Regions from separate parts of the Homo sapiens genome. Here regions 1, 2 and 3 are each linked to region 4. The links come from fine-mapping of genetic effects on gene expression. A gene starts in region 4. Each other region holds a variant in brackets. All regions are shown on one strand. Distances are from middle to middle.

What was found.
Region 1: its variant is fine-mapped to the expression of CD5 in whole blood (INTERVAL, PIP above 0.99).
Region 2: its variant is fine-mapped to the expression of CD5 in whole blood (TOPMed, PIP 0.94).
Region 3: its variant is fine-mapped to the expression of CD5 in whole blood (TOPMed, PIP above 0.99).

Annotation. Positions count from the first base shown.
Region 1 is chr11:61,021,273-61,029,272 of GRCh38, forward strand. It overlaps LOC105369325 (a long non-coding RNA gene), which reads right to left. Exons shown (of 2, transcript NR_188502.1): 2 at 7,591-8,000. Among named protein-coding and RNA genes, the nearest start is that of LINC02954, 30 kb to the right of the region's middle. RefSeq lists enhancers at 363-412, 4,911-5,476 and a silencer at 7,405-7,464. The variant G/A (reference allele first, on the strand shown) is at 4,978.
Region 2 is chr11:61,075,861-61,083,860 of GRCh38, forward strand. All of the region lies in intron 1 of LOC105369325 (a long non-coding RNA gene), which reads right to left. It overlaps LOC124902677 (a long non-coding RNA gene), which reads left to right. Exons shown (of 2, transcript XR_007062690.1): 1 at 1-331; 2 at 1,787-2,049. Among named protein-coding and RNA genes, the nearest start is that of CD5, 23 kb to the right of the region's middle. The variant T/C (reference allele first, on the strand shown) is at 4,811.
Region 3 is chr11:61,057,018-61,065,017 of GRCh38, forward strand. It overlaps LINC02954 (long intergenic non-protein coding RNA 2954), which reads left to right. Exons shown (of 4, transcript NR_186234.1): 3 at 4,694-4,858. All of the region lies in intron 1 of LOC105369325 (a long non-coding RNA gene), which reads right to left. Among named protein-coding and RNA genes, the nearest start is that of LINC02954, 5.6 kb to the left of the region's middle. RefSeq lists enhancers at 1-213, 3,899-5,098, 4,164-4,403, 4,754-4,993. The variant G/A (reference allele first, on the strand shown) is at 3,921.
Region 4 is chr11:61,098,064-61,106,063 of GRCh38, forward strand. CD5 (CD5 molecule) reads left to right here and starts at 4,426. Exons shown (of 11, transcript NM_014207.4): 1 at 4,426-4,552. The coding sequence starts at 4,498.

The sequences.
Region 1 (8,000 bases), 77 kb before region 4:
GGAATTTGAGGCTGCAGTGAGCCATGAATGATCACATCACTGCACTCCAGCCTGGGTGAGAGTGAGACTCTATCTCAAAAACATTTTTTTAACACTGGGGATAGGAAAACAGAACCTGACAGACTGAGAGGCAGGGTCTATGAGAACTCAACCTCACTGCCTCCCTGGGCTGCTCCACAGCAGCCCTGGGCTCAGCGGCAGGGGTTACTGCACTGAATGAGTTCCCGCCTGAGCCCCCAAATCTTCAAAGGTAGTATAATTCCAGGGAGTTTTATGCTTAGAGTTGCCTGGAAAAGGATTGCACCACCCCAGAAGGAAGTGGGGATGAGGCTGGTGGCGCTGGAGGGGACTGGAGCGGATCCGCACTGAGAAATCGGCATTGCCTCCAGTCCTCTGCCCATTCAGGGCTATGACTTTATCCCTGCTGCCATGGCCAGTGCCCAGCTCTGCCTGCGGGGTGAGGGTTGGGGCTCAGGTTTTCTCCGAGCCGTCTCGGGAGGGGCGGATCATGAAGGAGGTGGGGCTGTGTGGTGGGCGGGGCCTGCTTTCCATTCACCTGTCCCAGAGGTGGAGAGAAAGCCGCGCTCCCCAGGGCAACCGTCACAGGATGTGGTTGGCAGTGTTGGGCCCCCTCCTCGGGCCCTCTGAACCCTCCCCAGGGTGGCGGGGGATTCCTAGGGGAGGAGCCACTTCTGGGGTAGGTGGGGCAGACTCAGCGGCAGGGGGCTTGTGAAAGCCTGTGTTCAACTCCCCACTCCACCCCTCCTGGCAGTGTGGCCTCAGGCAAATCACTCAACATCTCTGAGACTTTGTTTGCTGTAAGTTGGTCTGTAGAATGTGTGGGCAGTAGTGGGTAACTCACAGGTGGTGGTGAGGGTTAGAGGGTTGGTAGTAAATGACCCCGTCATTGGTAGATTAATCACTGCAGGTGAGAGCGCTCCTTAAAAGGAGAAAGGGGAAGCCAGGAGGCACTCAGCAGTGCCTGGGGTCTTCAGTGCGTTAGTGCTGGGGGCAGGGCGGGGCAAGGGTTGGGGGAACATGGAGAATGTCTTGTCCCACTCTCATTTTACAGGTGAGGACACTGAGACCTAGGGTGGGAAAGGACCTGTCCAAGGTCACTGAGAGTTAGTAACAGAGTCACAATTCAATCCTTCCCCACCTCGTGCCCGCCCCAGCTCACACAGGGAGATGGCAATGCCTTCTGAGTCACCCCCATTTCCCCAACCTCCCCGGAGCTGCCTCTCTCACCCCAGCTCTCCCACCCAGGGCCCCCCACAGTCTCTGAGAAATTGGGAAGCTCTGCCCTAGCCCTGGGCAGTCTGAAGAAACAGCACCACACACAGTAGGAGGGCTGATCCCAGCTGGCCCCTGTCTCTATGTCTCCCAGGGACTCAGACCTGGGACCTGCACCTTATTGAGCCGACATGGGCCAGGCCTGTGCTGAGACTGGGAAAGCTGAGATGAATGACAGCCAGGCTCTGACCTGAAGGAGCACCAGCCTGGCAGGGAAGTCACAAACATAAGCAGGTGGCTTCCCCTCCACTCCTGGGAGACCTCATTATAATACGCCTCAAGGATCTGGGACAGGAAACACAAAGAGGCTCAATGGACTTGGCAGCGGAACCCAGTGGTTCCAGAAACATTGGCGTGGGGGGAAAGGCTGTGTCCCAGAACGGAAGCACCCAGCAATTTGACTGACAGCTCTGCAAGCTCAGGCAGAGAGTGATGCACAGGGAATTCCTGGGAAGCTGATGCCTGATCTGGGTTGTAGAGGATGAATAGGAGTGAACCACCGACGTGGAGAGGGAAAAGCATTCCAGGCCAAGGGAATGACACGAGCGAAGACACAGCAAGAAACTGCACGGCTCGCGAGGTCAAGGGAGGTCCAGTTTGAGAGGAGATGAGGCTGGGGATGGTCAAGTCTCACACCAACCCCATTTCATGGGTGAGAAAATTGAGGCCCAGAGAGGTTAAGTAAAAAGCCAAGGTCACACAGCTAAATAATGACAGTGCTGGGACTTAAATACAGCCTAGCTTCAGAGTCTGAGTGTTAATCATGGCTCTTCCAGTGTCCCTGTGCCACCACAGCCACACGGCTGGGCATTATTACCAGAGCCCCAGCCTAGAATCTGGAGACACCGGCCTATCTGCCCACCAACAGCACAGGCACCGGCTGCATTCTGGGATACGGGGTTCGGGAATGTAGAATCATCACTACCAGGCACCCTTATAGAGCCAGCTCTGTGCTGAGCTCTGGGAGGCACAGAAAGGAATGGAGCCTGGCCCTTGCCGCTGGGGAGTTTACAGGACCTGGGGCAGAGAGAGACCAGTAACTGCCGTTCATCAACATGGTGATGATGACGGTGGGTAGCATTTACTATGTGCCAGGTATGTGTTGTTTCATACAATCCTCATAAGGGCACTCTGAGAAGGTATTATTCTCCCTAATTCGTAAATAGGGCAACTGAAACCCCGAGAGATTAGATGACTAGCCAGAAGCCACACAGCTTGGCAGGTAGCACAACTTTTCCACCTCACTGCAAAGCCCCAGTGTGAAAACACCACGCCGCACAGCGAGGGCTCATGATAAGCATGTTTAACCCACATGAACTTAAGTGTGTGCTCAGCAGCAAACAGAAAGACAAGGGGCAACCCAGCCCAATATTTCCCTTGGTTGAACAAACACCCAGGAGGAGACAGACAGGAGCTGTGGAGCCTCCGTTCCCTCAGATCCTGGAAGCCGTTCATCCTGTGGGTACCTTGCCATGCTGGGTGAGATTTTAGCTGTTGGGGATTCATTTTTCATACACGGTGGGCCTGAAACAAAGCCCACCATTTCAACGAGCTGCTCTAATGCTGCAGGGAAAACACCTGGTTTGGAGCCAGAGCAGGGCAGACTCACATGCAGGCGTCTTCCTAAGGGAGTGTTCTTTCCTTTCCCTCACTCCCTCCCTCCCTGTCTGCCCTCCTCCCTCCCTTTCTCCCTCCTTCCCTCCCTCCCTCCCTCCCTCCTTCCCTACCCTCCCTCCCTCCATCCCTTCCTTCCTTCTTCTTTCCTTCCTTCCTCCCTTCCTTCTCTTTCTCTCTCTTTTCTTTTTTTTTTTCTTTTCTTTTTTTTTTTGGGATGGAGTCTTTCTCTGTCACCCAGGCTGGAGTGCAGTGGCAGAGTCTCATCTCACTGCAACCTCCGCCTCCCAGGTTCAAGCAATTCTCCTGCCTCTGCCTCCCGAGTAGCTGGGATTACAGGCACACATCACCACGCCCAGCTAATTTTTGTATTTTTAGTGGAGATGGGGTTTCGTCATGTTGGCCAGGCTAGTCTTGAACTCCTGACCTCAAGTGATCGTCCTGCCTCAGCCTCCGAAAGTGCTGGGATTATAGGCATGAGCCACTGGGCCCAGCCCTTTCTTTTTTTAAAATGGGAAATACCTTAACCGTATTAAAACTCCAACAACATGAATTCATACCATTAAAATCTTGCCCCCTCCACCCTGCCCCTTCCTCCCCACCCGGCCCACCCAAGGTAAACACAATTGTGTCTCTGATGTAGAAAGAAGCAGATGTGAACCCCTCTTGCTGCCTACCCCTTCTTATACAGAAATGACGTCCGGGCACCCTCTTGGGCTCCTTGCTTCTTTTTACTTCTCTGGTATCCCAGATAACGTTCCTAAGGGAAGAGTGATGCTACCCATATTTGAGTTTCTCCCACATGCTGTCCAAGCAGATAACTTTTGCCTCATGTAGGGCTCCACCACACCACTACAGAGGCTGTGTGGACAGAGAGGAAGAAGCCACTAACTGCCAGGGTTTAGTGGGAAAAGCATGACAAAAGAGGGAACAATCAAGTCGGCCATTGAAGGTTGTGTAGGAGTTTGCTGGATGGATGAGTGAAGGATGTTCTCAGTAGCAACACGTGCAAGTATGGTGCATGCCGCCTGAAGGCCAGGGGAAAAGGGGGTGCGCAGGTGGGAAAGACCATGGGGAGCATCTCCAAGGGTCTTGTGTAACTTGACCCTTGTCATTGTCTTAGACCTGCTGGGAGTTGCGAGCAGTTTCTAAGGCAGGGAAGTGATCCGATGAGACGGATGCTCTAGAAAGGTTGCCGCTATGAAGCGGAGGGAGGTTTGATGGGGCTGGGGCCTGGAGGAAGGGAGGCCAGCTGGGGGGTGGTCAGCACTGGGAGATGGAGAAGAGGGAACGAGTTGGAGACGGATTCAGGACTTGGAGAGTGATCACAGACATGGGAGATGATTTTCCAACACAGCAGCCTCCAGCCATGATGACAATATGACGGTGACATTAATGATAGCTTCGATTCCTGAGGGCACACTCAGAACCTGTGTGTCGGGCACTGTTCTGAGCACACTGCAGGTACTGACTCATGTATGCTCTCAACAGCCCCATGAAGAACCAGCATCATCCCCATCTTATGACTGAGGGAACAGGCTCAAGAATGTTCAGTTTTTCCCAGGGCTATCAGCTGAACATGGTGTGGCTGGGCCCTGGCTGCCACTGCCCCTGCCCTCCTCCTTTCCATGTGAAGGTACAATCCACACCAAAGGCTCACTTCTGTGCCTCCCAATGCCCAGCTGGAGCCACACACAGCTCTTCAGGCCCCACAATTAATTGGCATCCTCCAGACATCTGAGAGAGCCCAAGGGGACCAGGTCAGGAGCACGCTCTGGCAGGATTATCCCACCAGGGCCCACATGGATGTGGCTCTCAGGCTCCGAGGCTGCTCCCAGGGAGCACAGGTACTGGCTTTCCTTCCTTGGCAGGGCATCACCTGCGGGTCCCTAACCTTGTCCCCTGGAAACCTCACCTCCGACGTACACCTGTCCATCCCCCACCCCTCCCTATCGCCCCATCTGCGGTTTCCACTTCCGCCCCTCTCAAAGACCCTCTTCATGGTTCTGGTGAACGGACAGAGCGGCTGGAGCCCGTGTGGCCACCTGGCGTGGACCTCTCTTGGCCGCC[G/A]TCCCCGGCCCCCCGTCCTCGCTTCGTGAGGATGGGATGGAGTCTCCAGAGTGGGGAGGTGCAGGGGAGCCCCAGGGAAGGGATGGGTTGAAAGAAGCTTCAGTGGAAAGTTCATCTCCCGCCACATCCTTCAGCTGTTTACCAGTTTGACGGAGTTCTGGCATCCTGACATGAAAAGAGGCTCACCTCTCACCAACATCATTGAGGAAGGACCGAAATAGCAACAAAGGGAGACAAAGGAGGGGGGCGGGGGGTGGGGAGAGAGAGTCATGAGACAGAGAGGAAAAGAGGAAGACAGAGGGAGGGAGCGGTGTGCCTGAGCAGACAGTGGAAGGCAGGAGCAGCCAGACAAAGCCTTTGTCTTCCCTGGCCCCGAACCCCGCACTTGCTGGACCCCTTACATTGTGGCCTCACTTAATTCTCAAAACCTCCCAGAGCCTTAAGGTCTCCTAACGTCTGTTACCTTCCCTGTGGGAAAAGTGAAGCCCAGAGAAGTCATGGGACTAGTTCAAGGTCACCCAGCTAGGACCAGGGGAGCCAGGTTCACAGCCAGTCAGTGCAGCTACCACGGGGCAAGCAGGAGGGCGGGGAGGAGAGAAGATGGAAAGGTGATAGGCTGGAGGGGGAGAGGGTGGGTGGGAGGCCGGGAGACCATGACACGTTCTGTCCTGGGGAAGGATCCCCCACCCCCTCCGCAGAGGACCCGGGCCCTATCCTGGCTGAGGGCAGGTGCCCCCTCCCTGGCTCCCTTCCCCCAGCTCGTCCCACTTGCCCAGCCACCCACCAAGTGCAGAAGGAGGGGGAGGGGAGGGAGTGGTCCCCAGGGCCATGGGCTCTGGCTGAGATTCATTTTCCTTCAAGCCCCCTGCTCACAAAGAGTCCCTCTACCTGCGAGGTCTCCTGCCTCCCCTCCCTACGCTTAGCCCGACCAGGCCCACAATCACTGCCTCCTCTTCATTCTTCCACACAGTGGGGAGACAAAATGATCCTCGTCCAGACACTCACAGACACATTCCCCTCCATGGCCTCCAGGTCACACACACGGCTCTCCCTAGAAACAACAGCACTGGGTCCATGGGGCTCCGCTTCCTTCCCATGGCCTCCCCTCTGGGGTGACCATCCCTCCCTCCAGGCCTCACTCTCTGCCCTGGTTTCAAGGCAGGTGAAGGCTGTTTCTTATCTGAGGATGAGATACTAAAATAACTGGGGTCAGTAGCCCCCCTCAACTTTTCTGCATAGCCAAGACACAGCAATACCCTTCATCGCATCACTCCGATAGTCACCCTCTTTTCCCCCTTCTGTGGCCGGTGCCGTGACTTCCTGCAGTCTGCTCTGCGTTTGCTGCCCTTGCCTGCAGTCCTCCCACCTTCTTGGCAACCTGAAGACTAGGTGGGTGCATCCTGCGTGCAGCAGGAGAGACTCGGTACATGCTAGAGATGTACAGCCCCAGACGCATGTCTGTCCCTGCAGGACCCTCTCAGCTCATGCCCACGCTCACCCTCTAGCAAGAACAACCCATCCTGTAAGAGAGCCCTTCTGTGGTCCAGGGCCAGGCAAGGCCACCCACCGCAGCCTTTCGTCCCCAGGCCACCTACCCTGGGGATAGCTAGTGTAGGGCTGGAAGCAGCCAAGTCCTCCTGCTAACATCAAAGCCCCTCTGGCTGTGGGGACCCCTCTGAAGTACATGGGTGATGGCAGTAGCATTAACCCTGGAGCTCTGCCCAGTAAAAACCCCAAGATCCCCTCCCTCCCTTCCTGTTCCAGGAAACTCACCTCTTCTGCCCATACTCAAGTCTTCCTACTGCTTTGTCAAGCTCTCTTCTCCTTTCCTGATTTTATGGCTTGTTCTTTCTTTCTTTTTCTTTTTTTTTTTCTGAGCCAGGGTCTTGCCCTGTTGCCCAGACTGGAGTGCAGTGATATGATCATAGCTCACTGCAGCCTTGACCTCCCAAGCTCAATCAATCCTCCTACCCCAGCCTCCCAAGTACCTGGGACTACAGGCACACGCCACCACTCCTAGCTAATTCTTTCTTTCCATTCTTTCTTTTCTTCCTTTATCTCGCTCTCTTTCTCTCTCTCTTTCTTTTTCTCTTTCTCCTTCCTTCCTTCCCTCCTCTCCTCTCTCTCTCTTTCTTTCTTTTGACACGAGGTCTCACCATGTTACTCTCAAATGCCTAGGCACAAGCGATCCTCCCACCTCAGCCTCCCATAGTGCTGGGATTACAGGCATGAGTCACTGTGCCCGGCCTGCCTGTTCTTTCACTGAGACATGTTTGAGATTTGTATGCACCTTGCACGCACCCAAAAGCACACTTTCCTCCCAGCCCCTCACTAGTATCTGGCAGAGAGCCCAGAACCCTGACTCTGCCCCCGAGAGTGAGCTCCCTGCACACAGGCTGGCACAGCCTTGTGTCACCACTTTATTGACTGTTCTTAACTCACTGACCCAAGGCCTGACCATCCCAGTGGGATGAAGCCCCAGGGGCAGAAGGAAGTTGATTTAAGGCAACATTTGTCAAAACTGTAATCCATGTACATCTTCACAGTTTTTGCTTTATCTGTAGACCATTTGTTCTTTGGGTCACTTGATAGTTTTTCTTTAAGTGGACTCACTTATTTAAAACTTAAATTTATTTAAAAAGGAATTTTTAGACATCTTAAAAAATATCTGGCAGGTACTTTTCAAAAATGCCAATGTCATAGAATACAAAGACTCAAAAACTGTTTCAGATGAAAAGAGTCAAAGAGGCATCCCGAGTGAAGGCAAGGCATGACCTGACGTTTTCTTTTGCCATAAAGGACATTACAAGGACAGGCAGTGAAACAGGAAGGAGGTCTAGTGACTACAGGGTTATATCAGTGTTAGTTCCCTGATTTTGAAAAGTGTACTATACTTATGTAATAAAATAGTCTTGCTTTTAGGAAATACACACTGGAGTACTGACACATTTAGAGGTAAAAGAGGCCTGGTGCGGTGGCTCACACCTGTAATCCCAGCACTTTGGGAGGCCGAGGCAGGCGGA
Region 2 (8,000 bases), 22 kb before region 4:
GTCTTGATGATATCTGCAGTTTTGCACATACATATACTGTGTGTGTGTGTGTGTGTGTGTGTGCACACGCCTATATAATTAACAAAGAAACATATCCTCACTGGCCCTGTGCAAAGCTGTTACAATATTTATTTTAGGAATGAGGAAACAGTCCTGAGTTCTATCACTTGCCCAAGAAACTCACATGCTGTGAGTGACTACAAAGGAATTCCAGTCCCAGCCTGAACTGAAAGCCAGGGAGGACCCTTCCCTGCCAACTCGCCTGCCCTAAGCACAGAGCGTGGCTGTGCGAATTGCAGACTTGGTGGATGACGGCTGTGGGGAGTTAGAGGTAGGAAGTGATCATGCATTGTTTCTCCAAATGCTGTATTTAATAATATTTCAGATAATCAAAACTACTGTAGTCAACTGGGGAAGTATAGAATTGTTAAGAAGCAGGAAAAAAAATACCAACCCCCCAGAGACAATTACCATTAGTATTTTGGGATATTTCTTCCAATATTTTAATTGCGTTTATAAACATGGTTCATATTACATTGTAGGTGTGATTTTGCATCTCTCTTTGAAAACAACACTGTATCAGATTCATTTTCTTTTGTCATTAAAGTCTTCATAAACAACAAAATTTAAAAAGAGATCAATATTTTAAATAGCAGTAGTTTACTTACTATCTAATTTCATCCTGCTTACCTACCACCCACCCAAACCCAACCAGCAGAGCACCCAACTGTCCCATCTAAGATAAAATATACTCGGTACATATTCTGCACCAAGCAGAGAGGTGACTAAGACACGCTGTACCTCATAGCACACAGCAAAATTAACTCTGGGTGGATTAAAGAGCTAAAGGAAAAAAAAATCACAGAAAGACTTGAAAAAAGTTGATGAGAGTATTTATCAAACCTCTGTGTGGGGGAGGACTTTCTAACCCTAAAGCTATGGGAGAAACCACAAAAAAAAGATCACTAGATTTGGCTACCTAACATTTTGATACCCTGTAAACAACCTGAACAAAAAAGGTCAAATAGCAAGTGGGGTAAAATCTTTGCAACAAACATAAAAAAGATTAGTAGCCATCATAAATAAAGAGCTCATACAAATCAATATAAATCACCCACTGAGACCCAAATGCCTAACTGGGGAAAGGCTTAGGAGTGTGCTATCCAATATAGTAGCCACTAGCCACATGTGGCTATTTAAATTTAAATTAATTTAGGATTTAAATTAAAATCTTAGGTAAATTAAATTAAAATCAAGTTTAAATTAAAACCTTAGGTAAATTAAGTCTAAATTTAAATAAAATTAAATTTAAATTTTACTCAGTTATCTAGCCATATTTCAAGTACTCAATGGACACATTTGGCTGGTTGCTGCTGGACAGGCAGATATAGGCCACGTGGACCCTATTAAACAGGAAGATACAGGCCATTTCTATCATTGCAGAAAGCTTGATTGGAAAGCACTGCTTTAGACAGTGCGCAAAAGAAGACTCACCAGTGACCAATAAACACATTTAGAAATTCAGCTTCATTAGAAATAAAAGGAGTGCAAACTAAAACAAGGTCACATATTCATCTAGTTAGGAGTAAACAGGGTATTGCTAATTGAAGAGTAAAGAGTTACGGACCATCTGGAAAATAATTTGGCAATATAAGTTAAGAACTGTAAAAACCCTCAACCCAGCAATTCAGTTCCTGGGAATATGCGCAGCCTAAAGAAATTGTCAGAAATACACAAACCATTTTGTGCAGAAACGTATTGATTCCTAAATTATTTATTATTTCAGAGAGCCGCAGCCTGAAAGCCCAACCTCAGGGAAGTGATTACACCCATCAAGACCGACCACTCAATGGACGGACAAACCATCAATAAACATTATGTTTTGCCAAGAGGAACTAATGACTTGGGAAATACATACAAAAATAAATTTAAAAAACACCACATTCGAAACTGAAAGGTTAGGATAACATCAACTATAAAAATATGAAGACTATGCACAAGAAACTGCCAATTGCCAGAATAAATATCACTGGGTGATAGGATTCTGAATATTCTTTATGCTGTTCAGTAATTCCTGAATTTTTAACAAAGGTCATTTTCTGGTTTTATACAAAACTAGAAAGGTCACTAAAAATTCACAGGAGAGATAACCTAGTGATTAAGAGCAGGGATCTAAGCTGGCTGAGCCTTCGACGCCAATCCCCTGTTGCTCCCTGGCTCTCAGACCTCAGATGAGGTCAGCTCGGCTTCCTTGTCTGCAAAATTAATAACCACACCTGCCTCATAAGGTTTCTCAAGAACTGAGCAAGATGGTGCCTGCACAGTGCTGGGTAGAGTCTGTGCACATGAGCCCAGAACATACGTGAGGACTGCTGTTTGTATTAACATGGGAAATGCTTATGTTACTCTGTTGTCGCGTGACAAACCAGGACCCAGAATCTTCTATAGAACATGCTCTCAACTGGAAAAAATATGCTTTTTTTTTTTTTTTTTTTTGAGCCAGAGTCTTGCTCTATTGCCCAGGCTGGAGTGCAGTGGTATGATCTTGGCTCACTGCAGCCTCCGCCTCCTGGGTTCAAGTGATTCTCCTGCCTCAGCCTCCAGAGTAGCTGGGACTACAGGCGCACGCCACTGCGACCGGCTAATTTTTGTGTCTTTAGTAGAGACGGGGTTTCACCATGCTGGCCAAGATGGTCTCGATCTCCTGACCTTGTGATTCACCCGCCTCGGCCTCCCAAAGTGCTAGGATTACAGGCATGAGCCACTGCGCCCAGACAACATGTGCTTTTTCAAAAGTCCACAAAGACCAGGAGCTACTCCAAACTGCTGATGGCAGTTTGGGGAGATGGGAATAAATTTCCTCTCTTTGCTTAAAGAAGCATGAAAATATCTTTCTGTGCTTTCCAAATTGTCTCCAATGAGCATGCTATCTTCACAATGAAGGGGGGAAAAGCTTTATAAAGATAGAGAAAAGCTGAAATAAATAAAGGTTTAACTGGTTGTGCTGAGGAGGTCATCAGCTGGCACGCAACTGAGGCACACAGCCTCTGCAGCTGGTGGTTACTGGGGAGACCTCTGCCTTGTGGGATTCTGAGCTGATTTAATTTTTTTTCTTTCTTGAGACAGAGTCTCACTCTGTCACCCAGGCTGGAGTGCAATGGCGTGATCTCGGCTCACTGCAACCTCCATCTCCTGGGTTCAAGCGATTCTCCTGCCTCAGCCTCCTGAGTAGTTGGGACTACAGGCACCCGCCACCACACCTGGCTAGTTTTTGTATTTTTAGTAGAGACGTGGTTTCATTATGTTGACCAGGCTGGTCTCGAACTCCTGACCAACAGCCAGGTGAACTGCCTGCCTTGGCCTCCCAAAGTGCTGGGATTACAGGCACAAGCCACCACGTCCAGCCACATTTAATTTTTTTCTACATATTTTATGTATTTCCAAACTGTACAAGAGGTAGTAAATATTATTTTTCCCAACCAGAAGAAAAGACGTAGTTAAGAAAACTAAAGAAAACCTGGCCCTCTGCGTTGGGACTGGTGAGAGGGACGAAGGTAGATGGAAACAAGAACTGAGGGGCAGGGTGGGGGTGAGTGTTAGCACAGGGGCCCACCCTGCTGAGCCTGCGGGTGGGGCTGCAAAGCAAAGGCCTCCGAGCCTCCCCCTGCTCCACTCTGAGCCTTGTCTCCTCATCCACGCACAAGCCCAGGCCCAGCACAGCCGCAGACACGCCAAGGTGATGGGGGGCAGACTACCTGGACTGAGAAAGGGTTCTTTTTTATTTTCTAACCTTCCAATAAAACATCTGTGAATTTTTTCACTGTCAGATCAAATAAGAAAGGAACTTGCGTTTTGCAGTGCGTAGAGCTGATAACAGATCTATTGCATTTCTGAAATGTACAGAAGTTTTTTCCTCTTGAGAACCTGGGAGTAGTCGTCCCCACCCTGTCCCCAAAGCTGGGCCTAGTCATGACAAGCACTCCAAAACCCACAGGTCCCAGGTCCCCATACACCTGGGAAACAAAAGCATCTAACATCAAAAAGGACCACGGCCATAAGGAGGAAGAAACACCTTCTCAGGGTGAGGCTCGCCCACCCCCCTCTCTGCCAGGCCAGGCTTTGCTGTGTCCAATCCCCTCTCCTCATCTCTGAACTCCTCAAATTCCTGGGAGAGACGAAGCCTGTGAGGCCTTTTTGTCCACTAAAAGTAGGGGGCCAGTGGGACTTAGTGTCAGATCGGTTTTGCTGGTCATACTTCTGAGGTGCTGAATTTAGAATTTTGGTTGACATGAATGGGCTGTTCCTGGAGTCAAAGAAGCCTGTGGTGATGCAAAAAGAGATCAGGAAAATCCAAAGGAACAGGATAGTTTTGTGGGACACTCAGGGACTCTGGGGTCAGACAACAGAACCATCCACTCTGGGCCACAGCTATAATGCACGGACAAGAACCCATGCTTGTAGGATGGCAGTGTGCAGTAGGTTACACGGCTGCTGCATGAAAATTACTAGAATTAACCCTCTCTGGCCCCTTCTGTTGTTCCCACAGCAACAGGGAAGGTTGAGGAATAACAGGATGAAAGGACCCGGGATCCAGAACCTTAAGTCTGGACCAGCTATGTGGGCCTGTGTCAGTCACTTGACCCTGGGGGGACTCAGCTTTCTTCTCTATATAACGGATTCATTTCAGCTCCAACTATTGAATCAAACAAGCCCCAGCACCCTACCTGAGGCTCCTCAGAACAGAGGCATCCTCACCTCATTGCAGGAGCTGGGAAGACGAAAGAAATGCTATAATCTCTAGCAGAACAAG[T/C]AACTGCACAAGGAGCTCAGCAATGAAGACACAAAGCACAAACCCCAGGTCACCAAGCCGCGGTCTCCGAAGTGGGGAGAACTTGCATTCTCTGCAGCTAAACCTGGCAAACCAACAAAATATGAAACCACACTTCCAGGCAGACCCGCCTTGTACTGCACCAGAGCTTCTAGAGCCTTTTTTTTTCCTTTTCTTTTCTTTTTTTCTTTTTCTTTTTTTTTTTTTTCTTTTGAGACGGAGTCTCGCTCTGTTGCCATGCTGGAGTGCAGTGGCGCAATCTTGGCTCACTGCAACTTCACCTCCCAGGTTCACGCCATTCTCCTGCCTCAGCCTCACGAGTAGCTGGGACTACAGGCGCTCACCACCATGCCCAGCTAATTTTTGTATTTTTAGTGGAGACAGGGTTTCACCACAGCCAGGATGGTCTCGATCTCCTGACCTCGCGATCCGCCTGCCTCAGCCTCCCAAAGTGTTGAGATTACAGGCATGAGCCCAGCATAGAGCCTTTTTTAGGGGCATGGGAGGCACTGAGGTGCAGACTAAAGGTGCGGGCCTTCTCCCCAGAAAAACACACAAATGACCACCCATGGTGTCAGGCAGCTTGTGGAACACTGAAGGACAAACATGGATCCCAAGGTCAGGACGCCTGTTCCACCCAGGGCTCAGTGTGCCCCTAGACAACTTCCTATGCCAGGGGCACCCTCAGAGGAGCCAGAAACCAGACTAGAGCCCCAGTAGCTCTCAATGAAGTGCCTGGAGAGGGAGCTCTGTCCCCAGCTCTGGGGCCCACGTGTCGTTCTGGCTACCTTGAGAAGCTGGGAGTAGAACCTCCTCCCCGCTCCCTGGGATTCCCAAACTCTGGCCAGAAGAAAGGGAGCTCATTAGCTGGGCCCCACAGGCCTCCCTTTAGATTCACTCACAACTGGGGGGCAGTGAATAACAGGACCTCAAAAAAGGAGTTCTCTGTCCCAAAGCCTTTGAGGGTCTCTTGGGCTGAAAGATCCCATTTCCAGGGGTGGCTGCTCCGTGGCATGCCCGACTCTGGACCTCAACATAGAGAAGCCTCTCTGATCCCCGACATCAGCCCTTGTCCCCAGCATGCAGCCTCCCTCTTTGGGATCCAGATGCTGGAAGGACTTCAGCTAAGCTCTGGACCCCACAGGAGAAATCTTCATTTGCGCTTTAAGTAACCCATTTTCTCCACACATCCTGTATCAGAAATTGTCCTGGAACCTGACTGGACACGCTCTGTCCGCACTGTGTATTAGCGGGGTCTGGAGAGGAATGGGCTCTCGGGATTACAGAATTTGAGACTTCTCACTTTTCTATCTAACCCCTTTGTCAGAGGGGAAAGTCAGAAGGGAGCTTAGACTCCAGAAAAGATGGAGGAAGAAGGAGCAGGCCATACCTCAATGCAGAGAGGGAACCGAGGAGGTCTTCCTGGGGGAGGAAGCCTTGGCAGGGCCTGGCTGAGGGTGAGAGCGGAGGCAGGGCCAGGTCCAGCTTCCTTCCGCCCCCCACACTCTTTCCCACACCCTACCCAGACCTCACCCATGGGCGTGTTGCCCAGCATCAAGCCCGGGGCTTCCTGCCCAATGCCTGTCTCATCCAGGGACCTCGGCAGCCCTGCACACTGGTCAGATAAACCTCACAGGGGCACAGAGAGCAGGCACTGAGAGTGGCCCCCTGGAGGGCAGGATCCAGCCCCCACAGAAACACACAGCCCAGTAAAGGGGCTCCCCTGCAGCCCCCTTCCTGCCGGGCAAGGCCACAGGCAGGGTGTGGCTTGTATGCCATGGGGCACGCTTTACTTTCCAGCCTGGTACACACGCGGCAGAGTGGTCTTGGTACAGAATCAAAGGAACGACACTCCGAGGTCACAGATTACCCGGCTGGTGCCATCTGCTTCTGACAGTTGGATTGCGTTTTTCACAGTTACAAATCACGTCCCTTCAGGAATATCGGGAGGGGACCTGTGTTCCTAGGCACACACTCATCCCAAGCTGCCCTCCTTGGCAGAGCACGTGGGGAAGTGGGTGAGTAGTGAATGTTCCTGCCAGATGCTGGCCTCTGCTCTACCTACCTCACGCCATTTAATCTTCATGACAATCTGATGAGGCAGGTACTAGTGTTATTCCCATCTTTCAGAGGAGCTTGCACAGCTGGTGATTGACAGAAAAGAAAAAGGGGCTCTAGAAACCCATTTTAACCCCCTGTCCCTGCCAGGGAGGCTGCCCTGAGAACCAGTCTGTCCTGGGACCCCCTGCTGACCCTCATCACCTAGTCTCCCTGCCATCCCACCCTGTCCTGCAGAGAGGTTAGGACGCAGGAGCTGTGGGTTCCCACCAGCCCAACCCTTCTTGCTGAGCATCCTGGGGAAGCCCCCTAACGTTGCTGGACCGCCATGCTCCTGTGTGTAGGGCCCCACGGCCTCAGAGTTGGGTATGTCCTAACAGAAGTTGACCTCGTAGAGGACAACGCCTGATCGAGCGGAGGGTATCCTCTCAGCGGGAGAATCAGGAGCCCTGGGTCCCTGTTGGTTCCTTAACTTGCTGTGTGATCATGGGCAGGGCGCTTCACCTCTCTGAAAGATGGGGCAAATGTCATCTTCGCTGTCTTCCTCCTCCGGTTGTTATGAAGATCAGGTTGATCTCAGTGATGAATGTGAAAGTGCCATGCTCAGTGAAGATGACTCGAGGCAGACACAGGCAGGGGTTGTTACTGACAATGGTGACCACAACCCTTGCCCTGCCCGGGAGCAGGGACCCTCCCCTGCTTTGCAGATGAAGTAAAGTGAGGCTCTAGGGAAAGCAGGTTTCCACTCCAAAAACATCAGAGACTTGTTTTGCCTTTAAATCCTTCACAGAGGGAGACTCAAATCCCAGACTACAAGTTCCCTGCAAGGGGACAGAAAGGATCTCCAGGGCCTCAGATCTCCCCTGGATTTACCAGGCAACTGGAACGAGGTATAAACAGCCAAGGACTTAGTATCCGGAGATGCAAGTGCAGGCTCTGCCTCTGTTTCTGTTTCACTGGGGATGTCGTAGTCAGTTTCCTCGTTGATTGCGCGGGGACGGGGCACCTGTCTGCTTGACAGCGCTGTCAGGGACATGAAGTGCGATGCTTCCGTGCAAATGCTTTGTAAAGTGCAGTGCTCCAAGAGAGGCATTAAGAGTGTCCAAACCATACA
Region 3 (8,000 bases), 41 kb before region 4:
CAGGAGATGCTGAACAGCCCCAAAGGAAGCCAGGCTGGATTTCAGGCTCCTCTGCCATGGAGCTGCAGCTTGGTTAGGGTCCGGGTGCTTCTCCCTGGATTACCTGGAGAACACCCATCGCCCCGTGTCCCTGGCAGGCTCACCGGCTCAGCCTTCCTTGACCCCCAGCCCCCTGGCTGTACCTTACCAGCCCCTGCAGTTCCTGGGAAACAGGTCTTACCCAGATCCCAGAGTGCGCCTCAGCCCACCTGTCACCTTCCCACTCTAGAAACTCAACTCCAAACCCACCTCCTCCATGAAACAAGCGAGGAGTCACAAACATCCCCAGTGCCACCCCTCTGAGTTCCACAGGCCTGGCTCGGGCACCAGCATCTCAAGCATGTGGGCCGAGGCCCGGCTTCCTGCCCTGGGAGCTGGTCAGGCCATTGCTCATCCTCAGGGAGGTGTCAGTGCTGGTAGAGGCTGCAGATTGCCTCAAATGTTTTAGAATGTGACGTTTCCCCCAGGGGCCCAAGGTTAACCGATTCCAAGCACTCAACAGCACTAAGAGTGCATTCTCTCAGTGCATCCTCAAACTAAGGCTATGAAGCAGCTGTTGTTACTACCTCCATTTCACAGGCATGGAAAATGACGCTCAGAGAGGTTAAGTAACTCAGGCGGGTAAGTGGCAGGGCCAGGATTCGAACTCAAGTCAGACGGACACCGCAGTCCACGCTCCTTTTTACAGCCACACTGCTCCACCTACCTTGCCGTCCTTCTCACAAGAAGACACAGGAGGAAAGAGTCTCAGATCAGGAGTCGGAGCTGCACAGCCGTGCACTAGGCGTGTTGCCTCAGGAGGCCAGGAAAACGGCTGAGTCCCGCCTATGGTTTGGGCTGAGGCCCATAGTGTGGCCTGTGATTTATCCCCCAAGCAGGACACTTTGAAGAGTAAAAGAGGCTTTTAAGCTATTAATAATGATGATAGGACAGTGTTGGTCAGGACTGTCCCAGGCAAGCAGGATATGGGGTCACCCAACATGGAGTTGAAGTTAGCTAAACTCTCGGAACCTCGATCTCCTTATATTTAAAGTGAAGATATCATGAGCACCCACTAAAATAATTTGTGAGACCACACTAAACTATAAAACCTTACATCCAAATGTAGGTGTTTTGTTTTGTTTTTTAATTTACAACAACAAACAAGACTGGGTGAACTCATTCATGGTCTAACTTGACCTTGGGCAAGTTATTTTCTTTTTTTTTTTTTTTTTTTGAGACGGAGTCTCGCTCTGTCACCCAGGCTGGAGTGTAGTAGCGTGATCTCGGCTCACTGCAAGCTCCGCCTCCTGGGTTCATGCCATTCTCCTGCCTCAGCCTCCCAAGTAGCTGGGACTACAGGCGCCCGCCACCACCATGCCCGGCTAATTTTTTTTGCATTTTTAGTAGAGACGGGGTTTCACCGTGTTAGCCAGGATGGTCTCGATCTCCTGACCTCGTGATCTGCCCGCCTCGGCCTCCCAAAGTGCTGGGATTACAGGCGTGAGCCACCGCGCCCAGCCGGGCAAGTTACTTTCACCCTCAGGACCTCAGCAAAGTAACTGGTGGTGTGATGAAGGGGTCTGCCCGCATTTGAGTTGTAAACTGACAGCAGGTGGGCCACATTTTCTCTATATGACAAGTTTTGTTCGGTCAGTAGAGTGTTGACGTTCTTGAATTTGAATGCCACGGCCCTGCCACACCCTGTTGGCTTGTACCTGGCCTGGCCTGATCACAGGGTATAGACATCTGCCTGACCCCTGTAGGTGCCTAGGTTTGCAGCCCCTGGAATAGACACATTCGAAAGCCCCTTCTCATCCTGACATCCTAGGAGTCTTCCTAGCACTGGTAAGTACCCCGACTGAAGGTGTATAGGTAGATTAGTTGCAACGGATGTTCCACATTAACCTCTTAGATGAGTAACGTTCAACATTAATCAAAACACAAGAAAATCTCCTCCTACGCAATACCAAAGTCTTAATTCAACAGTCAGTCAGGAGAAATAGAGTCGCAGAATCAAAGGGTCGTCACAGCCGGGTGCAGTGGCTCATGCCTGCAATCCAAGCACTTTGGGAGACTGAGGCGGGAGGATTGCTTCAGACAAGGAGTTCGAGGCCAGCCTGGGCAACATAGTGAGACCCTTTCTTCTAATAAAAAAAAAGAAAGAAAGAAAGAATAAAAGACACTCAGTTGGGGTTTTGGTTTTCCACAAGTTGAGGTTGCCAACCTCATCAGATTAACCTCGAACCCTGACAACTAAGGAAAGAGAGTGGAGGAAGCAAAGAGCCTCTGCCACCTGTGTGAGCCTCAGATTCCTCCTCCATAAACCCGAGAGACTGATGTGTACCTGGCTGCATTGAGAGGGCTGCGTGAGCTCCACCGGGCACAGAGTCCAGCAGGCAGAAATGCTCAGTAAACAGAGCCCTACCATCCACTCTGCTCTCGTCCACCGCAGTAGGCAGCCTTAAAATGGGGTCACTCTGCATAAAGAACAAATACTTGTCAGCAGCTCCACCCTGCCATCTTTCTTGTGCTCAGCTTCTTGGAGAGGCAATGTGGTACGCTTTGAAGGAGCACTACATTTGGAGTTTTGATGACTTGCATTTGAATCTTGGCTGTGCCTTTCGTGGCAGTGCATCCTCCAATGACCTCCTTGACCTTTCTGGGTCTGTTTGTACATCTGCTAAAAGGGGATCATGATGACCTCTGCCCTGCCCACTTCACAGATCCTCATCCTATCCATTGATAACCCCACCTGTGAGATCCTGTAGTAGCTGATGTACATGTTAACCGTCATTATCAGTTGAGAAACTTCTCAACTAGGACCAAGCCCTTCACATCTACTCCTGTTTCTGCCACTGAAGCAAATTAAAAAATAATATATATATATATATATATATATATATATCACCTTGGACCTTTTATTTTCTAGCAAGGATTATCCATAGTTATTATCTACACAGGGTGGCTGGTCCCAGGGGTGTGATTCCCATTTGGGGTAATAAGTAAATGCTCTTCGTAGCAACTGCATATGAGGTGAACAAATACAGCATGCCAATAGCGGGACCCTATCGACAGATGAAGCCAGGATTCCAGCACTTACTCCCAGAGCCAGTTCTTCATTATTCAAGATACAAGATCAAGGCTGGGTCCAGGTTCTGTTGAGCCTGAAGCCTATACAATTTGGGGGTCCCTCTTTAAAAAATATGATAATACACAAATAAAATTAGATAAAGGGTGCCTGTAATCCCAGCACTTTGGGAGGCCAAGGCGGGTGAATCACTTGAGGTCAGGAGTTTTAGACCAGCCTGGCCAACATGGTGAAACCCTGTCTCTACTAAAAATACAAAAATAAGCCAGACATGGTGGTAGACGCCTATAATTCCAGCTATTCAGGAGGCTGAGGCACAAGAATCTCTTGAACCCGGGAGGCGGAGGTTGCAATGAGCCAAGACCATACCACTGCACTCCAGCCTGGGCGACAGAGCTAGACTCCATCTCAAAAAAAAAAAAAAAAAAAAGATAAATGGCCTTGGGAGGGTCCTAAGACTGACCTTCTCCAGCCTTGTGGTCAGTCTGTCTGGACCTGTCTGCACATCATCCCTTTAATTATTTCCCAAAAGCTCTACATCACAAACGCATTATTGAAGATGAAGAAACGGGGCTCAGAGAGGTAGAGGAATTTGTCCAACCCAGTTGTCCAGGAAAGACCAGGCACAGTGGACTCCAAATCCCATATTCTTCCAGCCACAACATGCATTTCTTGAATAAATGCTAAAAGATGTGGTGGGTAATTGGTATTGATGAATGGAACACAAATTTGGGGCAAGTTTCAGGTTCACCCTATCCACACCCTACCCGACTCCCACCAGAACTCCTGAATATCACAAACATCCTTCCAG[G/A]ACCCCACACACAAAAAGTCCCAGGTTATAACCATATTAGAGTAATGGAAAATGAGAAAATGGAAAAAACCTCCATCATTCCCAGCAAAGACTCAACAGGGCCCTCATGAAGCTCCACCTTGTTCCCACTGAGGCAGCTTCCGGCAAGTGCCTGTTTGTACAACCAGCGAGAAACACAGCTCTTGCTGATCTTAATTCTTACCCCCACTCGTTCAGTTCTCTTATGATGACAGGCACCTCAATTCAGTTTCGCAGCATCCCAAAACGTGCCGGAGTAGGCTGGGTGAGACTCTCGGGGCTCAAAGTCTATCATTACATCTTGGTTGCGACCACAGAGGGTTTTTTTTTTTCTTTTAAACACCAGCTCAAGGGCAGAAGAATTAGTCAGGGCACAGATCTTCCGGATCGCTACTGTATGGGGACCATAACATCACTGTAAGGCCCCTGTGCTGAGCCACAAACCCCACTTGGAACAAAGAAAACTCCCAGGTACTTTACCAGACACCAATTGCGCCATCCTGTTTGGGACACAGTCATTTGGCACTCCAGGTTCTCAACCCATAGTAATAACGCCTCATGCTTTTGAAACTGAAAAATGCATCCAAAAAAATCTCAGTGACACATCATGACTCATGTCCCATCCCCACCCCCACTCCCACCTCCCTCCCGCCCCACCCTAGGGAGGGGGGCTCGTCCTTTTCATTCACCCCTGATGTGAAACCAGGTTGGTCAGTGCCTGTCAATTTCACTTCCTGTTTCCTTGCTTCCATCAGAGAGCAGAGCTGTGAGGAGGGATAGATATTATGCTGTGGTGCAGCCAGACAAGCCCCACCTTGTTGTGCCTCCAGAAGAAGCACATTCTTGGCCTGGGTGGTAACAATAACATCTGGATGGAAATATCAAGTGGTATCAGGCTTCCAGACCACCATTCATGAAAGGTGCATCCACTTAGTAAGCCTCTATGGAGGCCTCTTCTGGGCCAAGTGTTTGTTCGAAGTTGTGTATGGACAGAAAGATATTCCTCCTCTCAAGGTGCCCACAGTCCAGGGCGTACTGAGAAGCCAACAGATAATGCAGTGAGATGGCTGTGGGGATTGGGGTGTTACAGAATTGGGGTGGGGTGGGGACAGCCTGCTTTCAAGGAGTCTAGGCAGGCATCTCAGAGGTGACAGCCAAGACTAGATGGAGGACAATAATAAGGATGATGACGATGATGACACTGATGAACAATATGTGCAGCGTTTTCTAACACTTTGCATTTGTTAACTCACGTATTCTTCCCAGTCACCCTTATTCCCACTTCATAGAGGAGGGAACTGAGGCATCAGGATGGTGAGTAACTGGCCCAAAGTCACATAGCTGTTACAAGCACTATATGAGGACAAGCTGACCTGCCAAAGACAGCGTAGGGATCAGGACGGAGAAAGTCACAGAGAGGAAAGGGCATGGCATTTATGGAGAGCTGCCAACATCTTGGGGCCACACAGCAAAGGGCAAAAGTGGTCCCAACATGTGGGTGTGTGGCCCACAGACACGCTTTGTTGATGGCCCATATAGTGTTTTAAGATATATATATAAACCAACGCTTGAAAATTAGGCTATTTCATATAAAAACTCAGATTCCCAAAATTATGTTGAACAATCAGGATCTGGAAACATGGAGGCCATATTCTTCCATGGCAATAATCAGAGTTGGGTTGGTTCTCTTTAGATGGGGTGTAGCCTTCACCCTGTTTCCGTACAGCCACTTCCACTGCCTGATGTCCCCTTCATCCAGTCCCATTAATCCACCAACGTGACCTGCCTGGTGTGTGTGAGACAGGGCAGAGTCAGGGCACAGAGCTACAGAACTTGGACTGAAGCGTTTCCAGTAAGAGGAGGGCAGTGGTGATGCAGCCAGACTCCTACTGCGTGGAGATGAGTCCAGCAGCTCCCTGGAAGAGGGACTGCATGGAGCATAAGACTGCAGCAGGGAAGAGGAGGAGAGGATAAAGTACTGTTCATGCAGGATCAGAACCGGGGCAAGTGTGAAGAGGTCCCTCTACTGAACTTCTACGGAGGTTGATTTTACCGGAAATCTTTTCTCTATTTTCTCCCTGGGGCTCAGGATATAAGCTATACTTAGCAAGCAGTACTTTTTCATATGGAAGACTAAGATTCGCAGAGACCCTGCCAAGGCAACTTACATAGAGCCAAAGGAGAAAAATTAGGCAGATGCTCTCGGGGGAGTTAATTTTAAGGCATTACAGCATTTAATACACAGATTCCACTTCAGTGTTAAACCAAACCAGTCGCAGAGGCTTAAAAAACAGTGGCCAGGTCAACCACTTCACTTTACTCCCAGCCCCCAAAACCTCTCCTGCCCACCATGTTTTCAACTTGAAGCCACACTGAACCATGGAGCACTGTTAGGAAGGCTGGAGGTGGGCAGAGGGGACAGCCCGAGATCATGGTGCCACGAGAAGCTTCCCTCCAGTTGGGGAGATGGGGCCAAGCCCCATGGACCACGAGTGAGAAAGACACATCATGTTTCTATTTCACGTGTGCCATTCACGTGCTTAGTTCTGGGACGCTGCAGAGAAGCAGCAGTTACAGACCTGCTGATGGTGTGGTCAGGAAAGAAGCAGGAAAAGGGTGGGGCACGGTGGTGGCTCACGCCTGTAATCCCAGCACTTTGGGAGGCCGAGGCAGGCGGGTCACCTGAGGTCAGGAGTTCAAGACCACCTGGCCAACATGGTGAAACCCTGTCTCTACAAAAATAAAAAATTAGCTAGGCATGATGGCGGGCGCCTGTAGTCCCAGCTACTCGGGAGGCTGAGTCAAGAGAATTGCTTGAATCCGGGAGGCGAAGGTTGCAGTGAGCCGAGATCACGCCACTGCACTCTAGCCTGGGCAACTGATCGAGACTCTGTCTCAAAAAAAAAAAAAAAAAAGCAGGAAAGTAATTTGACAACTAGGAGATCTATGACAACACTTCACTCAGCTGTGGAAAGGTCTTGGGTGTTAGGGTCACATTTGACAATTCTGCCTGTTTGCTGTGTGGCACTGATGCCTGGCTGAGCTTCTCTGTGTCTGTCTCCTCATCTTTTAAATGAGAGCGCTTTGTACACTGGGAAGTGACCTGTGGATGTGAGAGGCCCTGTTGCTATGTGTCCTCTTCATCATTGCTTGCCTATTTTACTATATTTTTTTTTTTGAGACGGAGTCTCGTTCTATTGCCCAAGCTAGAGTACAGTGGCGTGATCTCTGCTCACTGCAACATTCGCCTCCCAGGTTCAAGTGATTCTCCAGCCTCAGCCTCCTGAGTAGCTGGGACTATAGGCACGTGCCACCACATCCAGCCAATTTTTGTAGTTTTAGTAGAGACAGGGTTTTACCATGTTGGCTAGGCTGGCCTCAAACTCCTGACTTCAGGTGATCTGCCTGCCTCGGCCTCCCAAAGTGCTGGGATTACAGGTGTGAGCCACCGCGCCTGGCCACTTGCCTGTTTTTCAATCCAGGGCTGGTCCCCCGGCTGGAAGTCTGCAGAGAGGGTCGAGCCCTCCATCTTTCCTTCTCTCCCTTCCCAAAGTTTCCCAGCTCTGCTGCTATCCCAGGACCCTTTCTTAGGCTATAAAATCCACACGAAGGTGCTATTCAAAAAGATTCCCGCATTTCCTACTTTGAAAGGGCACCCTAAGGAGTGACTAACAGTGATATTTCAGGAGGCACTGGGTGGTCGTGTCTTGAGCGCTCAGATTCTACCCCATGAGCATCTACATTCAATCAAGCCAGAGACCAAGATAAAAGCTAAAAAACCCAACCAAGTTTCCAGGTTTTCATAGTGGTTGGCTCCATGTAGACTGGAATTAGCAAACAGGTTTCAATCCATGTACCAGATCTGATGGTATGAAACACTGATTATGGCCGGACACTGTGGCTCATACCTGTAATCCCAGTACTTTGGGAGGCCAAGGCAGGAGAACTGCTTGAGCCGAGGAGTTTGAGACCAACCTGGGCAACATAGCGAGACCCCGTCTCTACAAAAAAAAATAATAATAATAATAATTAGCTGGACATGGTGGTGTGTGCCTGGGGTGC
Region 4 (8,000 bases):
GATAGGACAAAACTGGCACATGTGCCCGTGCAAGTGTGGCATGAATTTGATCCTGGGGCCATGTTTGGAAAATGGTTCCCAGCACTAGGAGGATTTAAAACTCTTATAATAGGAGTTTTAATAGTAATAGGAACCTGCTTACTGCTCCCTTGTTTGCTACCTGTACTTCTTCAAATGATAAAAAGCTTCATCGCTACCTTAGTTCACCAAAATGCTTCAGCCCAAGTGTACTATGTGAATCACTATTGATCTGTCTTGCAAGAAGACATGGTAGTGAAAATGAAAGTGAGAACTCCCACTCATGAGTGAGATTCTCAAAAGAGGGGAATAAGGGAGGAGACCACCCCTCATACTGTCTTATGCCCAATTTCTGCCTCCAAAGAAAGAAGAAGTAAAAACTAAAAGGCAGAAATGAAATCTGCTCGGCACCACACCTGGGCTTGGTAGTTAAAGATCGACCCCTGACCTAATCTGTTATGTTATCTATAGATTACAGACATTTTATAGAAAAGCACTGTGAAAATCCCTGTCCTATTCTGTTCCATTCTAATTATCAGTGCATGCAGCCCCCAGTCATGTACCCCCTGCTTGCTCAATCGATCATGACCCTCTCAAGCAGACTCCCTTAGAGTTGTGAGCCCTTAAAAGGGACAGGAATTGCTCACTCAGAGAGCTCAGCTCTTGAGACAGGAGTCTTGCTGATGCTCCCGGCTGAATAAACCCCTTCTTTCTTTAACTTGGTGTCTGAGGGGTTTTGTCTGTGGCTTGTCCTGCTACAGGTCTAAGTGGAATCTAAGTGGAGGCATCACTGAGCCAGCCTCTCCAGCCCAGGGATGGGGAGGCCCCAGGCCCTAGTGGACCTGGACCAGTGATCACGTCCTTGAACTACTTCCTACCTGCCTGGGGTGGCCCAGAGTACAGGAAGCCCAAGGAGCCAGGAGCTTTCTCATCTGGGAGCACAAAGGATGTGAGGAAAAAACGGAACCCAGCCCAGCCCAGGGAAACACAGGGACTTTCCCCTGCCCCGGGCTTCCCATCTTCTTTGCAGAGACCCTGCCTCTTCTTCAAGGGGGATGATTCCAGACCCTCTAAGAGCAACAGGGACACGGAGCTCACATACATACCCCACATCAACATGGAGATCACACACCTCAACACGGAGATCACACACATCAACATGGAAATCACACACACATATCGAATGGGGATTACACACATCAACGTGGAGCTCATACATACACCCCAACATGGAGATCACACCCACAACACAGAGATCACACAAGTCAACATGGAGATCACACACACACATCAACATGGAAATCACACACACACATCAACATGGAAATCACACACATCAACATGGAGATCACACACACACATCAACATGGAGATTACACATACATCAACATGGAGATCACACACACATCAACATGGAGATCACACACACACATCAACATGGAGATCACATTCGCACACATCAACATGGAGATCACACACACACATCAACATGGAGATTCACACATATCAACATGGAGATCACATTCACACACATCAACATGGAGATCACATTCACACACATCAACATGGAGATCACAAACACACATCAACATGGAGATCAAATTCACACATCAACATGGAGATTACACACACATCAACATGGAGATCACATTCACACACATCTACATGGAGATCACATTCACAACACAAACATGGAGATCACACACACATATATCAAATGGGGATTACACACACATCAACCCCAACATGGAGATCACACACACAGCACAGAGATCACACATGTCAACATGGAGATCATACACACACATCAACATGGAGATCACACACACATCAACATGGAGATCACACACACATCAACATGGAGATCACACACACTCGTCAACATGGAGATCACATTCACACACATCAACATGGAGATCACACACACACATCAACATGGAGATCACACACACACGACATGGAGATCACACACACACATCAACATGGAGATCACTCACACACATCAACATGGAGATCACACACACATCAACATGGAGATCACATTCACACACATCAACATGGAGATCACACACACACAACATGGAGATTACACACACACATCAACATGGAGATCACACACACATCAACATGGAGATCACACACACACAACATGGAGATCACACACACACATCAACATGGAGATCACACACACATCAACATGGAGATCACACATACATCAACATGGAGATCACACACACACGACATGGAGATCACACACACACATCAACATGGAGATCACTCACACACATCAACATGGAGATCACACACACACATCAACATGGAGATCACATTCACACACATCAACATGGAGATCACACACACACAACATGGAGATTACACACACACATCAACATGGAGATTACACACACAACATGGAGATCACATTCACACATATCAACATGGAGATCACATTCACACACATAAACATGGAGATCACACACACACATCAACATGGAGATCACACACACATCAACATGGAGATCACACACACAACATGGAGATCACACACACACATCAACATGGAGATTACACACACATCAACATGGAGATCACATTCACACACATCAACATGGAGATCACAAACACACATCAACATGGAGATCACACACACACATCAACATGGAGATCACATTCACACACATCAACATGGAGATCACAAACACACATCAACATGGAGATCACACACACACATCAACATGGAGATTACACACACATCAACATGGAGATCACATTCACACACATCAACATGGAGATCACACACACATCAACATGGAGATCACACACACATCAACATGGAGATCACACACACACATCAACATGGAGATTACACACACATCAACATGGAGATCACATTCACACACATCAACATGGAGATCACACACACACATCAACATGGAGATCACACACACACATCAACATGGAGATTACACACACATCAACATGGAGATCACATTCGCACACATCAACATGGAGATCACACACACACAACATGGAGATCACACACACACATCAACATGGAGATTACACACACATCAACATGGAGATCACACACTCATCCACATGGAGATCACACACACACATCAACATGGAGATCACACACACATCAACATGGAGATCACATTCACACACATCAACATGGAGATCACAAACACACATCAACATGGAGATCACACACACACATCAACATGGAGATTACACACACATCAACATGGAGATCACATTCACACACATCAACATGGAGATCACACACACACATCAACATGGAGATCACACACACACGTCAACATGGAGATCACATTCACACACATCAACATGGAGATCACATTCACACACACAAACATGGAGATCACACACACATATATCAAATGGGGATTACACACACATCAACCCCAACATGGAGATCACACACACAACACAGAGATCACACAAGTCAACATGGAGATCATACACACACATCAACATGGAAATCACAAACACACAACATGGAAATCACACACACATATCAACATGGAGATCACACACACACATCAACATGGAGATCACACACACATCAACATGGCGATCACAATCACACACATCAACATGGAGATCACACACAACACAGAAATCACACACGTCAACATGGAGATTACACACACATCAACATGGAGTTCACACACACATCAACATGGAGATCACACACACTCAACATGGAGCTCACACATACACCTCAACATGGAGATCACACAACACAGAGATGACACACACAACACAGAGATCACACAAGTCAACATGGAGATCTCTCTCTCTCTACACACACACACACACACACACACACACACACACACACACACTGGCACAAGCCCAGCATTCATGGCGCAGCCATCTCTTGTACTTGCTAGCAAAACACCACCTGTGGAAAGTCAGCTCAAACTTCCAACCTCATCCCTCACAAAGGGGGAATGGAGGGTTTGGTTTTGGCTTTCACTGGAGTCTGCAACAAGAACTGGCATCATGCTGCCCATTTCCCGCCTCTCCCCACCCAGACCCCTGCCTCAGGGACGCCTGTCCTCAGCCCAGCCCTCAGCTGCAGCCAGGCCTTCAGCCTCCGTAACCCCCGCTCAGGGTCCCCACCCCCTGCAGCCCTGTCCCTCCAGGATGCATGGCCTTGTCCTGTGTGGGGGTGGCCGAGAGCACTGCCCCAGCCCTGGGTACCTTGGGCAGGAAGCTGGCAGAGGCCAGGGCTGCCATTCAAACAGGGGCAGGTGGTTTTGCCAGGAGGAAGTTGACAGTTCAACTTCAAACATGGGTGACGCAGGCCCCACACTGCCTGCTCCCCGTCCCACCCCTCCCTGAGCACGCCACCCCGCCCTCTCCCTCTCTGAGAGCGAGATACCCGGCCAGACACCCTCACCTGCGGTGCCCAGCTGCCCAGGCTGAGGCAAGAGAAGGCCAGAAACCATGCCCATGGGGTCTCTGCAACCGCTGGCCACCTTGTACCTGCTGGGGATGCTGGGTGAGTACCCCTCCCAGGTGTCCTGCGAACACCCGGGCTCGCTCCAGTGCAAGGAAGGAGTTCCCAGTTTTACCCAAGGCTGACTCTGGGATCCACATGTCAGCCCTCTGGAGCGTTGTGGAGATTTGGGGCCACTGGGATCCCTGCCTGCCCCCACTAAGCCGCAGCTTGGCCCTCTGTCCTGCATGTCCCACCCGCCAGGAGCACAACCTTGCCTCTCTCATGCGCTGTTGAGAACCCTGCTTTACCCTTCCAGTGCAAGAGAGACTGCAGGGGGGACCCGCATTTGATGGGGCCCAGACAACTTGATTCCTAGGCTGAGTTGGATTTTAGCAGAGCATTCAGGCCTCCCTCTGCGAGGTCCCCCACTGACAGCCCAGCCTTTACTTGGTCGCCTCCAGAGACATGGAAACTCGCCGTCTCCGAGGCAGCTCTGATGATGCTCTGGACAGACAGTGGGCCGAGGCAGGGTGGAGCCGCCTCTGAGGACGATGTCTGAGCAAATGTCAAGGACTCATAGCGGAAGTCCTAGGCCCTCTCATGCCCAGTCCTGGGTCAGTCCCAGAGGGGCCCAGCCAGGCCGGCTGGGATGAGTACACGCTGGGCCTGCTCTCACTCCAGCCCTGGGTTGTAAGCCCAACCCTGTGTGACCTCGGATAGGTCCCCAAGCCTCTCCAGGCCTTGATCTCCCCATTTATGAAATGTGGGGGTTGGGGGTGTGAACTGGATGAGGCCTGACCCACTTCCTGAGGATTTAGAAGGTCTGGCAGGGTGACAGAGGTGCGTGACTCTGGGCTGGAAACAGGAGGATGCGAGCAGCTTCCAGGCTGGCAGGGAGAGGGTCCGGAGGCCTTGCCTGCCTGAGCAGGGAGCCTCAGCAGCCTTCTAGGGAAACCGGGTGTGCAGGTGTGAGTGTGGGGGAATGCATGTGTGTGTGTCTGTGTGCATGTGTGTGAGAACTGTGTGTGGGGGAATGTGTGAGTCTATGTGTGTCTGTGTGAGTCTGTGTGTACGTGTGTGAGAACTGTGTTGGGGGGTAATGTGTGACTCTGTGTGTGAGTCTGTGTGTGAGTCTCTGGGCATGTGTGTGAGTACTGTGTGTAGGGGAATGTGTGAGTCTGTGTGTGAGTCTGTGTGTGAGTCTCTGGGCATGTGTGTGAGTACTGTCTGGGGGGGAATGTGTGAGTCTGTGTGTGAGTCTCTGGGCATGTGTGTGAGTACTGTGTGGGGGGGAATGTGTGAGTCTGTGTGTGAGTCTGTGTGTGAGTCTCTGGGCATGTGTGTGAGTACTGTGTGTGGGGGGGGAATGTGTGACTCTGTGTGTGAGTCTCTGGGCATGTGTGTGAGTATTTTGTGGGGGGGAAAGTGTGAGTCTGTGCGTGTGAGTCTGTGTGTGAGTCTGTGTTCATGTGTGTGAGAACTGTGTATGGGGGAATGTGTGAGTCTGTGTGTGAGTCTGTGTGTGAGTCTCTGGGCATGTGTGTGAGTACTGTGTGGGGGGAATGTGTGAGTCTGTGTGTGAGTCTGTGTGTGAGTCTGTGTGTGGGAGTCTGTGCGCATGTGTGTGAGAACTGTGTGTGTGTGCTTTCATGAGCACAATGCGGCCTCCAAAGGCAGGATTATCTCCCCAACACATGTGACAATGGCACCTGTGCACACATGTTCACATGGTTCTTCTCACATGTAACAACAACAGGTACAAAATGCCTTCTGTCCCAAAGTAAGAGGCCTGAGACAGACCTCTGGCTGGCTTCAGGGACCCTGCTAAGGAGGGACCAGGCCCTTAAACCCCCCACCTGCTCCTCACCTCTGGCCTCAGACTTCATTGAGATAGGGCGGCTCCCAGCTGAGTATGGGAACCCGTGTCCTGCTCTAGGGCCCTCCCAACTGAATCCCATCATGGGTGAGGCTCCTGATGGCACCAGGCAAGTCCCCTGGCCCAACACAGGCCACAGTCAGGAAGACTTGGAGGTAGCCCCTTCACCCCAGTATGGGGACCTCCTTGAACCCCAGGAATACTCAGTTCCCAGTGTCTGAGTGAGCCGGTGGGTACCAAGCATTCCCTTTGTTCAGTGGGTAACGGTTTACAAAGCACTTTTAAAGCCATTTTCTGCTGCAAGCTTCACAACAGCCAATGAAGTAGGTGGGCCCATTGGCCCCATTTTACAGTGGGGAAAAGCGAGGCCCAGGAAGGCCGAGTGCAAACCCAGGGTGCAGCAGCTGGTGCACAGCCGAGCTGACCCCAGCCCAGCATTCCTGCCTTCACAGAGGCCCCTCCCTTAGCTAAAAGGGAAGGCCACCAAAGGCACTTCCGTGTGCAGGAAAATGGCCCTGGGACACAACCTCCACCAGCAGAGATACAGCCACCAGAGCTGGGGACACCAAGGGCCAGGGTTGCTGGAGTCAAACAGTGCAGGCACCCTTTGAGCCATTCCAAGGAGAGAGGCAGCAATGCCAGAGCCCTGGGGACACCACAGCCTCCTGGCTGGCATCGGGGCTTGGGGACCTTTGGATCCTGAGGCATGAAGATGCCCCCAGCAGGCCTGGGTGCTAGTGACAGGCCAGGGCTTCCCACAGTTGCTCCCCTCTCAGCCCCAGCCTGCCTGGACAGCTGCTGGCAGTGAGGCGGGGAAGCGGCTCTAACACAAACTGCACGTCCCTGACTGGCCTAGCCGATGCGACTCTGAAAGCCAGCACTGGGACGTGGGAAAGTCATGGACTCTGCAGTTTGAATTCCAGTCTGCCACTTACCAACTGGGCGACCTTGGACTAGTTCTGTAAGCCTCAGTTTTCTCATCCGTAAACTGGGTGCAACAGTACCTCATAGAGGCTTATAAGGATTCAATGAATCAATGCACACAGAGCTTAAGTACAATCCTGGCATATAGTATAGTAAGTACTCAATAAACAATAATAACAGCAACAACTATGATTATTATTATTACCAGGGTCAGCAAGAAACAATGCGAGGTAGGAGCCAATGGGGAGGAGGGTCTTGCCAGAGGCCTGCACAGCCGTCAATCTCTCTACCCCTCAATCCTCTTGCACAGGCTATTTATTCACTAATTCATTCATTTTTCATCTACAAATATTATTGAGCATCTCCTGTGCATCCAGCTCTGTGCAAAACACTGGGGATACAGGGACCAAGGCAGGAGTCCCTGCCCTCAAGGATTTGATCAGCTAACAGGAGAGCTGTTAGAGAACACAAGTAAACAAGCACCAAAGACCGGGCATGGTGGCTCATGCCTGTAATCCCAGCACTTCGGGAGGCCAAGACGGGTGGATCACCTGAGGTCAGAAGTTCAAGACCAGCCTGGCCAACATGGTGAAACCTCATCTCTACTAAAAATACAAAAATTAGCCGGGAGTGGTGGCACGCACCTGTAATGCCAGCTACTCAGGAGGCTGAGGCAGGAGAACCGCTTGAACCTGGGAGGCGGAGGTT